Homo sapiens: one gene and its partners. The protein of the gene in region 3 purifies or fractionates together with the protein of the main gene of each other region. This does not show direct contact. Each region holds a gene or a part of one and is shown on either strand. Other genes may lie near its edges.

Region 1 (3,539 bases), on a different chromosome or scaffold from region 3:
CAAGTGTGGAAACAGTTGTTTCATATTTTGTACACTGCCCATATGGTTCAAAATCGTATCCTTAGACACAAATCGCCTGGCGCTTGCACTGAATTTTTGAAAATGCAAGATTTCTGAATGATAAATTAACCCCCCCAATTTTTTTTTTTTTTTTTTTAAAAAAGCTAATTTTGCAGACAGGTTTACATGTAAAAGGCTAGGTATTTAGCCACCTCAGCATTGATTAGTTTTGGATGTCTAAGCTCTGTTACACATGGCTTCCCATGGCTTCACTCTACAAAACATATTTACAACGTGAAGGATACATCTACAAGAAATCTACATTTCAAGGGTTTTACAAATCAATCTTGTATCTTTCCCCTGAATTGACTCTCACAGACCCCGTCCCCTTGTCATTTCCTTTGCCCAGCTTAACGGTCCAAAGTCTACTTAAATGCAGCTCAAAAATGTTAAGATTGGGCAACAGATTTACAGTTCCTGTTCTCAAAACCATGTGCAATTATTCACATCTTCACACCATGAAGGAATTCTGATTTTTTAGCTTTTCAAGTTCCTTAATTTGTTGTCTCAAAAATAGTATCCTGAAAAAAAAAAGCAGACATTAGAACCTGTGTACATATACAAATATTACAGAAAACCCGAGCTTTTATAATTAAAATTTTTTAAATTAAAACAAGTGATTTCTAATTAAGGCAAAGAAATTTAAAAAATTATTTAACTATAAATTGGTTTACAGTTAAGACAAAGTAAACATTTAATACATAATATCTATTAAAGTATAAGGATGATGAAAGGATGTTTTAGTTTTCAAACAACTTTTTATTTTATTTTATTTTTTGAGACAGAGTCTTGCTCTGTTGCCCAGGCTAGAGGGCAGGGGTGCAATCTTGACTCACTGCAATCTCCGCCTCCCGGGTTCAAGCAATTCTCCCTGCCTCAGCCTCCTGAGTAGCTGGGATTACAGGCACCTGTCCTTACGCCCGGCTAATTTTTATATTTTTAGTAGAGACAGGGTTTTGCCATGTTGGCCAGGCTGGTCTTGAACTCCTGACCTCAGGTGATCCGCCCACCTTGGCCTCCCAAAGTGCTGGGATTACAGGCGTTAGCCACCGCGCCCAGCCTTTTCTAACAATTTCTTAATAATTCCTTTGGCTCTAACAACTTAAAATGTATTACTTTATAAACCGTATCATCACAATAAAGAAAGCAGTAGCTATTATACATGAAATAAACCTATACTGCATGTTTTCTGGCCCACTATACAGTAAAGAGTAGAATTAACCAGGTGTAAGAGATTAATCATTTAGAAGAGCAATTCTCAATGTAGATGTAGGTACATAAAAATGAAGCCAAAAACCAAAAGTTGAAACACACAAACCCCAGTTACCCAGATTCCCATGAACGTAAAAATATTTCCTGTTTTTACTCTTCTCTTCTGGGAACTATAATATTTATTGCCTGTACACATGAATTAGGCATAATCAGGCTGGCTTGATATTTGACTGTATATACTGTTTTCCTAAGATGCAATAATGAATAATTTCCCAAAAGTCGAATGATGTAACAAGCCAAAATGAAGTTTGTTAGAACTACTTTCAGAGCAATCTGACTATAAGAACCCAAGTTGTTACTCAGAGAGTACCTCCAGATATTTTAGTAACTGTAAATAAACTTACTTTTTCAAGTTGTACTATAAACTCCATTTGGTATTTACTAAATATTTATGGTTTCTTGACAAGATTCAATCGACCTGTAACTCTGTGACTTGCACAGACAGGACATAAAGCCATTGCCAAGTTTGTCCTCAATTCTGTAATAGGCATTAAAAAATAATACCTATGCTATTATTATTGTGACCTAGATATTCTACTTGAGTGAAACACTAGATTAAGAAATACAAGACAAGAGTTCAGGTGAAAAATACTAAGACAGCAGATACACTAAACTTGCTAGACAAATTCTTTCTATACTTTTCAAGGGATCTATTGATGATGCAAGGACAAATAATCTGAAATTTCAATGGAAACACCCTCAGCAAGAGAGGACATTTATAATTAGTTGTGGTCAATATTTCATTTTTTCAGTAATATATTATTGCAGCTTATGGAGTTATGAGAAAAGTCTAATGAAGCATTCATCATGGGTTAAGAGAAAATCGACAGGCTTTATCCTTCACGAGAAATATTAACTTATGAAAATGCAGTGATAGAATGTGATCAATGTATCGAAGAGAACTTTACATTTCATAAATAAAATGTGATTTACATTCTTTAGTTCGATTTAAGAATCATAATCCTGAGAAACATAAAAATATATTTCAGTGAAAGACTTACCTTTGCTCTCGCAAAGTTGCTTGAATTTCACATACTCGGACTAAAGATCTTAAATTTTTTAATTCAGTACAAATTTCGGACATGTGAATAGTTCCCATGTTATGCGCTTCTTCGCGTAATCTTGATGCCTGTAATTAAAGAAATGAAGAAAACATAAAATATAAACATTAACATACACAAAATAAAACATTAAATTTCTGAGTACAATTTTATACTAGGATTAGAGAATAATCCTTTTCCCTTCAATACACAAAAATGCTGGTGAACCTAATGGGGAAAATTAATTTGTTTTAAGAAACTGTCTCTAAGGGTGGAAGGTACTTATTTTAATATTTCTCTTCTAAGTTGGAGAAAATAGGATTTCCAACCTGAAGCTAATACAGCACTAAGAAAGGACTCATAATTTGTGGTTAATAAAAGATGCTGGGTCAGCCAAAGAGATTGTCATTTCTGCAAGTTCAGGTATTAGATATTGATTCAAGAGCCTCACTATACTCCTCTATCGTAAGACACACAACATATTCTCTGTAAACTTTCGAACACCCCAGATGGTCAGTTATCTGATAAAAAGCAAGAGGCAAATGGCAGTAACTGGAATGTCCTAAGGTCTCTCATCCCAAAGCAAAAATGTTTCCTAACTTCCAGTTGCTAGTCTAGTGAGAGAGTCATAGAAAATTAAGTGGGGTTTTTTTTTGTTTTTTTGAGACAGAGTCTCACTGTGTCACCCAGGCTGGAGTACAGTGGTGCAATCTCGGCTCACTGCAACTTCTGCCTCCTGGGTTCACGTAATTCTGGTGCCTCAGGCTCCCGAGTAGCTGTAATTACAGGTGCATGCCACCATGCCTGGCTAATTTTTATACTTGTGGTTAGAGATGGGGTTTCACCATGTTGGTCAGACTGGTCTCGAACTCCTGGCTGGCCTCAAGTGATCCACCTGCCTTGGCCTCCCAAAGTGTTGGGATTACAGGTATGAGCCACTGCGCTTGGCCAGTAGATTAACAGTGCTAATGGAATCTGAAACTATCAGAGAAGCTGAGTGGAAAAAGTACACTGGCTTTGAGCCACATCACTGTTAACTGGGTGACCCTGGGATCAAGGTCTTATGCACTATTTGGTCTTAAGGACTTCAACTCTATCTACACTGCTTAGCTGTTTTAAGAAGTAGAGAAAATAAATATAAGGCATTAAGCACTGAGCTAACTGCTG
Region 2 (3,712 bases), on a different chromosome or scaffold from region 3:
TCAAAATGGATGAGAATTAAATGTAAGCACTAAAAACTATTTTTAAAGCCTTAAGGGTAAATCTTCATGACCTTAGGTTTGGCAATGGTTTCCTAAGATAATGTAACACCAAAAACAAACAAGAAAAGAAAAAATTGATAAATCAGACTACATCAAAATTTAAAACTTTTGTGTTGCAAATGATACCAGGAAGAAAATGAAAAAGACAACCTACAGAAAAGAAAATACAGTTGATCCTTGCATACCATGGGTTTGAATTTCAACCGTGCACATGCGGATTTTCTTCCACTTCTGCTACCCTGAGATAGCAAAACCAACCCCTCCTCTTCCTCTTCCTCTGCCTCCTCAATGTGAAGACAGCAAGGATGAAGACCTTTACAATGACCCACTTCCACTTAATGAACAGTAAATGTATTTTCTCTTCCTTATCATTTTCTTCATAACCCTTTCTTTAGCTTACTTTATTGTAGGAATGCAGTATACGACACATATGACATAACATATGTGTTAATTGTTAAAGTTATTCATAAGGCTTTTGGTTATTCGCAGGCTACTGGTTAAGATTTTGGGGGAATCGAAAGTTACATGCAGACTTTTGACTGTGGGGATTGGTGCCCCAACTCCTGCATTATTCATGGGTCAACTGTATTTGCAAATCATCTATCTAACAAGGAACTTATATCCAGAATAAAGAACTCTTGGCCGGGCACAGTGGCTCACACCTGTAATCCTAGCACTTTGGGAGGCCGAGGCAGGCGGATCACCTGAGGTCAGGAGTTCGGACCAGCCTGGCCAACATAGTGAAACCCCATCTCTACTAAAAACACAAAAAATTAGCCAGGCATGGTGGCACACACCTGTAGTCCTAGGTACTCAGGAGGCTGAGGCAGGAGAATTGCTTGAACTCGGGAGGCGGAGATCACACCACTGCACTCCAGCCTGGGTGACAGAGTAAGACTCTGTCTCAAAAAAAAAAAAAAAAAAAAAAAAAAAAAAAAGAAACCTCTTACAACTCTGTAATGAAAAAATAACCCAAACAAATGGGCAAAAAATGCAGACATTTTTCCAAATAGATATACAAATGGATAATCAGCATATAAAAAGATAATCAACATCATTAAGTCAGAGAAATATAAATCAAAACCATGAGATATCATTTCACATCCACTACTAGGATAGCTATACTAAGACGATAATGAGGTTGATGAGAATGTGAAGACGGAAACTTCTTTGATTACTGACGAGAATGTAAAATGGTGCAGTCACTTTGGAAAACTATTTGGTAGTCTCTCAAATTATTAAATAAAGAGTTATCATAGGACTCCAGCAATTCCACTCCTAGGTATTATAGATATCCAAGAGAAATGAAATCATGTCTATACAAAAACTTGTACATGAGTGTTCACAGCAGTGTTATTTCATAATAACCAAGAAAAACAAAAACAAAAAGAACAGCCCAATCCAAATGTTCTTCAACTGAAAATGGATAAACTAAATATGGTATACATATACAATGAAATATTATTTGGTAATAAAAAGGAATGAAGTTCTGATACATGCTATCCAAAAAAAACATTATGCTACGGGAAAGCAGCCAGCCACAAAAGACCACATATTATATAATTCCATTTATATAAACTGCCTAGAAGAGGCAAATCTGTGCAGACAGATTAGTGGTTGCCAACAGTGAAGGGCAGGTGTAGGTGTAGGAGTGACTGCTAATGGGTACTGGGTTTCTTTCTGGGATAATGAAAATGTTCTAAAATTGATCATGGTAATAGTTACACTTTTTATATATACTAAAATCACTGACTTGTACATTTTAAATGGATGAATTTTATGGTTTATGAATTATCTCCATAAAGATGTTAAAATGTTAACAACAACAAAAAGGGTTGACCAGTGGTTGTGAAACCAAGAATCCTCATACTCCAGATGTCTTCCTGGTACTGTTTACACAGCACTAGTATATATAGTATATAGGGCAAGAGTCACCTTCCTCCACCTGAGGGGAAACAAAATTATAGCACATCCTTAATGAAAACCATCTGGCCAGTATGATGCAGGCTTTTGTTATTTTCAGAATGCAGTAATGCAATGTGCTTGAGCTTTAACCTGCTGGAGAGGCACAAGCAGCCTTCGGCTGGCTGGAGTTCACAACAGCAGCCCTCCTATCAGCTGAGTGGGCAGGAAAAGGACCTAAAACTACAAAGTAGAAAGCACAGGTTAGAAAATTTCCTCGTGGCAAAACATATGCACAACATTGGGCAGTCAAAGCTTTCTTCACTTCTGAATTCCTCCCCACTTCCCACCCCCGAAATAGTCTGCTATTCTAGGTCAAACATACTTTAAATATAGGTACATTATGAATCAGCTAGAATTACATAATGATCAAGCAAGAAGGACCTTTAAAAGTATTGTCTAATGGAGCACTGACTCTGAAGCCACTTAATAAGTGGCTGTGTGACCTTCAGCAAACCCACGTCTCTATATCTCAGTGTCTTCATCTGGAAAATGGGCATAATAAAGGCAACTGTTTTTTGAAATTGCTGCAAAGACTGAGTTAATCCATGTAAAATGTTTAGAAAAGTGCTTGGCACATTGTAAGTACTAATAAATTTTTAACAGTTCTTACAATTATAAACTAGTAAATCCCATTATTTTAAATGGAGGAAGATACTAAGGCTCAGGATGCTAAAGTGACCCTGCAGTTGGCAGTAATAGGGCTGTTTGCCAGGCTTCAGGTCTCTCTGACTCCTGAACCAGCGTTCTAGAGTATTAATGTGTAGCCCTACATGTATAATACTCCTTGACTAAATTTTAGGTCTTGAAAGACACAAATAACAAACACAGTGCTTCTTTAGAAGTATGTCTCACACAATGTGGGAATCTGTAACATGTTTTTAATTTACTCTCTTCATCCCAAGTTTAATCTTCTAACATCTAAAGAAAGGTACTGGCACTAAATCCCGGAATGTCCAAAAGGCAGGATGAAACCAGACTGTAAACGAAAATACATGTAAACTTTTTTTTTTTTGTATTTTTCATTGAAGGAGGATAGAGTACCTGAATACGCTTAGCATTTAAGGGAAGAGACTTCTTTTCTCTTCTAGAAATACACTCACATAAACCTCAGACGCTATTATCAGGGCTTGATGAATTCTAACTTTCAGTAATTAATACCTATCGATTTAAAATTCAAGAGGCAAAAGAAGCTCACAAAATAATAATACATAGTATTTAGTGAAGTACAATAAATGCAGCAGGAGAGATATAAAGATGTAACCAGAAAATGTTCTACGCTACGCTAAAGCCAGAGTAAGCTTTTAAACAATCTCATCATTTCTCTCTCACAGACGCATGCATGCATGTACCCACATGCACACACACAATCACATCACAGTGTTTAAACCAGCCTATGAGGCCCTGAAATATCTAGCCTCCCGCACACCCCTGCATCTTTGTTGGAGCCTCACTCTCCTCAGCTCTCAGCCAGATGGGTCCTCTTTCCTTTCCTCAAACTCGCACGTCTCCATTCTGCTTTGGGGCCTTGACACTGGCATTCCCTGTGCCTGAAAAGTTCTTCTTTATTTCCTCTAACTACACCTCTGCCTTGGCCTCTCCAGCGAACTATTAACAGCTTGATTTATCCTTCAGACTCTGCTTAAATTTTTCCTCAAAGAAGCTTTCTCTAACAACCCGTACTAGCCTC
Region 3 (3,712 bases):
TCTCCTGACCTTGTGATCCGCCCGCCTCGGCCTCCCAAAGTGCTGGGATTACAGGCGTGAGCCACCGCGCCCAGCCCATTTTTCTTTTTTTTAATTATTATTTTTTGAGACAGAGTCTCACTCTGTCGCCCAGGCTGGAGTGCAATGACACGATCTCGGCTCACTGCAACCTCCACCTCCCGGGTTCAAGTGATTCTCCTGCCTCAGCCTCTTGAGTAGCTGGGATTACAGGCACGTGCCACCATGCCCAGCTAATTTTTGTATTTTTAGCAGAGACGGGGTTTCACCATGTTGGTCAGACTGGTCTCAAACTCCTGACCTCGTGACCTGCCTGCCTCGGCCTCCCAAAGTGTTAGGATTACAGGCATGAGCCACCACGCCCAGCCTTCATAGTCACTTTTCATACTGCCATTTTCCCTCTTGGGATAAAAATGTTCTCAGAAAAAAATGGACCACGTAAATTAGGTTGACAGCTTCTTTCTTTGAGTCAATAATGATAGCTTCCTAGTCAATCACTCCTTTCTCCTTAAAACATTACCTTGGAAATATTAATTCTGACAGTCATAGCAATGACATCTTTCCTGAGTCAGCTGCTGCTCTTTGTTAATTATCGCTCATTAATTGGTAAGGTGAGCAACCACAAAGGCTGCCAGCAGTAGCCTAGGATGGCAGTTAGATAATCAAGATTGTTTACTCAATGTATGTGTGTTTGAATCCCCTTTCAAAAGAAAAAAAATCATATACTGCAACTGTCCAACAAATTCCACCTGTCAGAAACCAATGCTCATTTCTTTTCTCAGACTTAAAAAAAGAGCTGGACAGATTGCAGAGATCTACTTGCCTCAAAGCTGCAGAATAGCCATAAAGTATTTTTAAAATCTTAAAGAGCTTATGTCTCCAAATCATCATCACTGTCTGTCTTGAGATACCAACAATGCCAGGCAATTTACTTCCACTTGGTAGCTAGCTTTAAAACCCAACTAAACTCTAATTTTTTAGCTAAAGCATCAATTCTGGGCAGAACAACAACAGACGTTTTCAGGTGTATGGCTGGACATCAGGAGTATTTTGTCTATGGGCTGGCAATGTTGCCTAATGTTTTTCAGCATCCTCTGTCATGTGTGCAAAAACTGCAGGCAAAGGATGAAACTGCTGCAAAGTCCTCATGGCTCTCTTTCCAGTGGCATTCAATGGAGAGGGGACAGCCTTCAATACCACACAAATTTGTCATGGTACATAGATCAGATGACTCGTTCTCAGAATGGGCTTATCTGGAAGAGTCTTAAAGATTCACCAGGCACAGTGACTCACACCAGCACTTTGGGAGGCTGAGGCAGGTGGATCATTTGAGACCAGCCTGGGGAACATAGCAAAACCCAGTCTCTACAAAAATTAGCCAAGCATGGTGGTACACACCTGTAGTCCCAGCTACTGGGGAGGCTAAGGTGCAAGGATCACTTGAGCCTGGCAGGTCAAGGCTGCGGGTAGCCGTGAGCAAGCCACTGCACTCCAGCCTGAGCCACAGAGAGAGACCCCTGTCTGAAAACAAAACTGGCAAAACTCTATGCACCCTCTAAGTATCTCACTTTTCAGGATCAGCTGAATTTCACTTAGAGTGGCATCAACAGACTAAAGTTAAACCTGGCTACTTAGAAAAACATAAGTTTTATTTGAAGGAAGTTGCAACACACAATTCAAAAATGCTATAGAAGTATGGCCTCTATATAGGCTTCTTCCACATAGCTAACTGCTAATGATTAGTAAGATGGCGGCACTGGTTTCAAGAAGATAATTTCATGCCTGAGGACTCTTCTCTGTAGACTCACACTGTGCAATGACAGTGTCAAGAATGAACATCCCAGGGCAGGGGCTCTGTACATTTTTTAGGTATAAGACCCCTTTAGGATGTTTCAGAAAGACCCTTCCTAACACACACACACACACACACACACACACACACACACACACACTTCACACTGGTCTATAGATAATGTTTGGGACGTGCCAAACCTCCTTAGTCTCCTACTGGGGTCTGCAGCCCAATGTCATTAGGTGTTCTGATCTCTAATACCCAACATGACTGGAAAGAGTTCAGATACCTTTCAGAAAACATATAAGACAGAGAAGTATAATGGAGAACTGATATAAAAAATCAGAAAACCTTGCTGGGCACAGTGGCTAACGCATGTAATCCCAGCACTTTGGGAAGCTGAGGTGGGTGGATCACCTGAGGTCAGGAGTTCGAGAACAACTTGGCCAACATGGTGAAACCTCATCTCTACTAAAAAATACAAAAAATAGCCGCGCGTGGTGGCAGGCGCCTGTAATCCCAGCTTCTTGGGACGCTGAGGCAAGGGATCGCTTAAACTCGCGAGGCAGAGGTTGCAGTGAGCTGAACCATTGCACTCCAGCCTGGGCAACAAGAGCAAAACTCCATCTCAAAAAAAAAAAAAAAGGAAAATCAGAAAACCTCTTAGAAACAAAAAGGAAAGAATCTATCACAAGCAGTTAAAAAATAAAGGCTCGGCCAGGTGCAGTGGCTCACGCCTGTAATCCTAGCACTTTGGGAAGCTGGGCAGATCACTTGAGGCCAGGAGTTCAAGACCAGCCTGGACAACATGGCAAAACCCTTTCTCTACTAAAAATACAAAAATTAGCTGGGTATGGTGGCACCCGGCTGTAATCCCAGCTACTGGGGAGGCTGTGGCGCTAGAATCACTTGAGCCTGGGAGGCAGAGGTTGCAGTGAGCTGAGATCGTGCCACTGCACTCCAGCCTGGGTGACAAAGTGAGCCTCTATCTAAAAAATAAATTAAAAATAAAGGCTCACCTCATTCCCTGCCTACCTCTGCCCCTGCCCCTGCCCCATAAGGTATACTCCAGTAGCCAGAAACTATCTAGCTCCTCCCTGGCTGGGCCCCAAGAACCTTACTATAGAACACCCAAGGACTGCCCAGTATTTTTTTAAGTATTACATGAGAAGATCCAAAAAGCCACACACTCCCAATTCACACTGCTCCCTGGCTAAAAACAGTAGCCCCTTTTTAACAGCTGATTTTAGTCCTGGTGCGGTGGCTCACACCTGTAATCCCAGCACTTTGGGAGGCCGAGGCGGGCGGATCACGAGGTCAGGAGATCGAGACCATCCTGGCTAACACGGTGAAACCCCGTCTCTACTAAAAATACAAAAAAAAAAAAAAAAAAAAAATTGGCTGGGCGTGGTGGCAGGCGCCTGTAGTCCCAGCTACTCAGGAGGCTGAGGCAGGAGAATGGTGTGAACCTGGGAGGCAGAGCTTGCAGTGAGCCCAGATCGCACCACCTCACTCCAGCCTGGGCGACACAGGGAGACTCCCTCTCAAAAACAAACAAACAAACAAACAAAAACAAAAAAACAGCTGATTTTACTTACTGATTTTTTGTCAGGAGTACTGTGTTGAGGTAACAGCTGATTTTAAAACATAATAGCATCTCGAAAACCAACCTGAAGCTTTTCCCCAGGTTCAGATTAAAACTAAAAGAATACTTTTTTAAGAAAAACAAACCATCCTGAAAATCAAGTGGGGTGTACTATTTGGGACTGAAATACTTTATGAGCAACTGAGAATCTGATTAGTTCCTTGACACCCATATGGAAGAGGACCTCTATATGTGCCCCACCTCCCAAGACAAGACCTAAATGTGGAGGAATGGGCTTACCTATGTTTCTAAGGGCA

Evidence for each region.
Region 1: the proteins of CDKN2AIPNL (region 3) and WAC purify together in Homo sapiens (affinity purification with mass spectrometry; one large-scale study listed by BioGRID and IntAct). This does not show direct contact.
Region 2: the proteins of CDKN2AIPNL (region 3) and PLEKHA8 purify together in Homo sapiens (affinity purification with mass spectrometry; one large-scale study listed by BioGRID and IntAct). This does not show direct contact.

The regions. Positions count from the first base shown.
Region 1 is NC_000010.11:28,616,579-28,620,117, reverse strand, and holds part of WAC (WW domain-containing adapter protein with coiled-coil), read right to left. Parts: intron 2,462-3,539; coding exon 2,334-2,461; intron 582-2,333; coding exon 512-581; 3' UTR 1-511.
Region 2 is NC_000007.14:30,031,297-30,035,008, reverse strand, and holds part of PLEKHA8 (pleckstrin homology domain-containing family A member 8), read right to left. Parts: intron 1-3,712. UniProt on the Homo sapiens protein: Cargo transport protein that is required for apical transport from the Golgi complex. Transports AQP2 from the trans-Golgi network (TGN) to sites of AQP2 phosphorylation.
Region 3 is NC_000005.10:134,405,329-134,409,040, forward strand, and holds part of CDKN2AIPNL (CDKN2AIP N-terminal-like protein), read right to left. Parts: intron 1-3,712.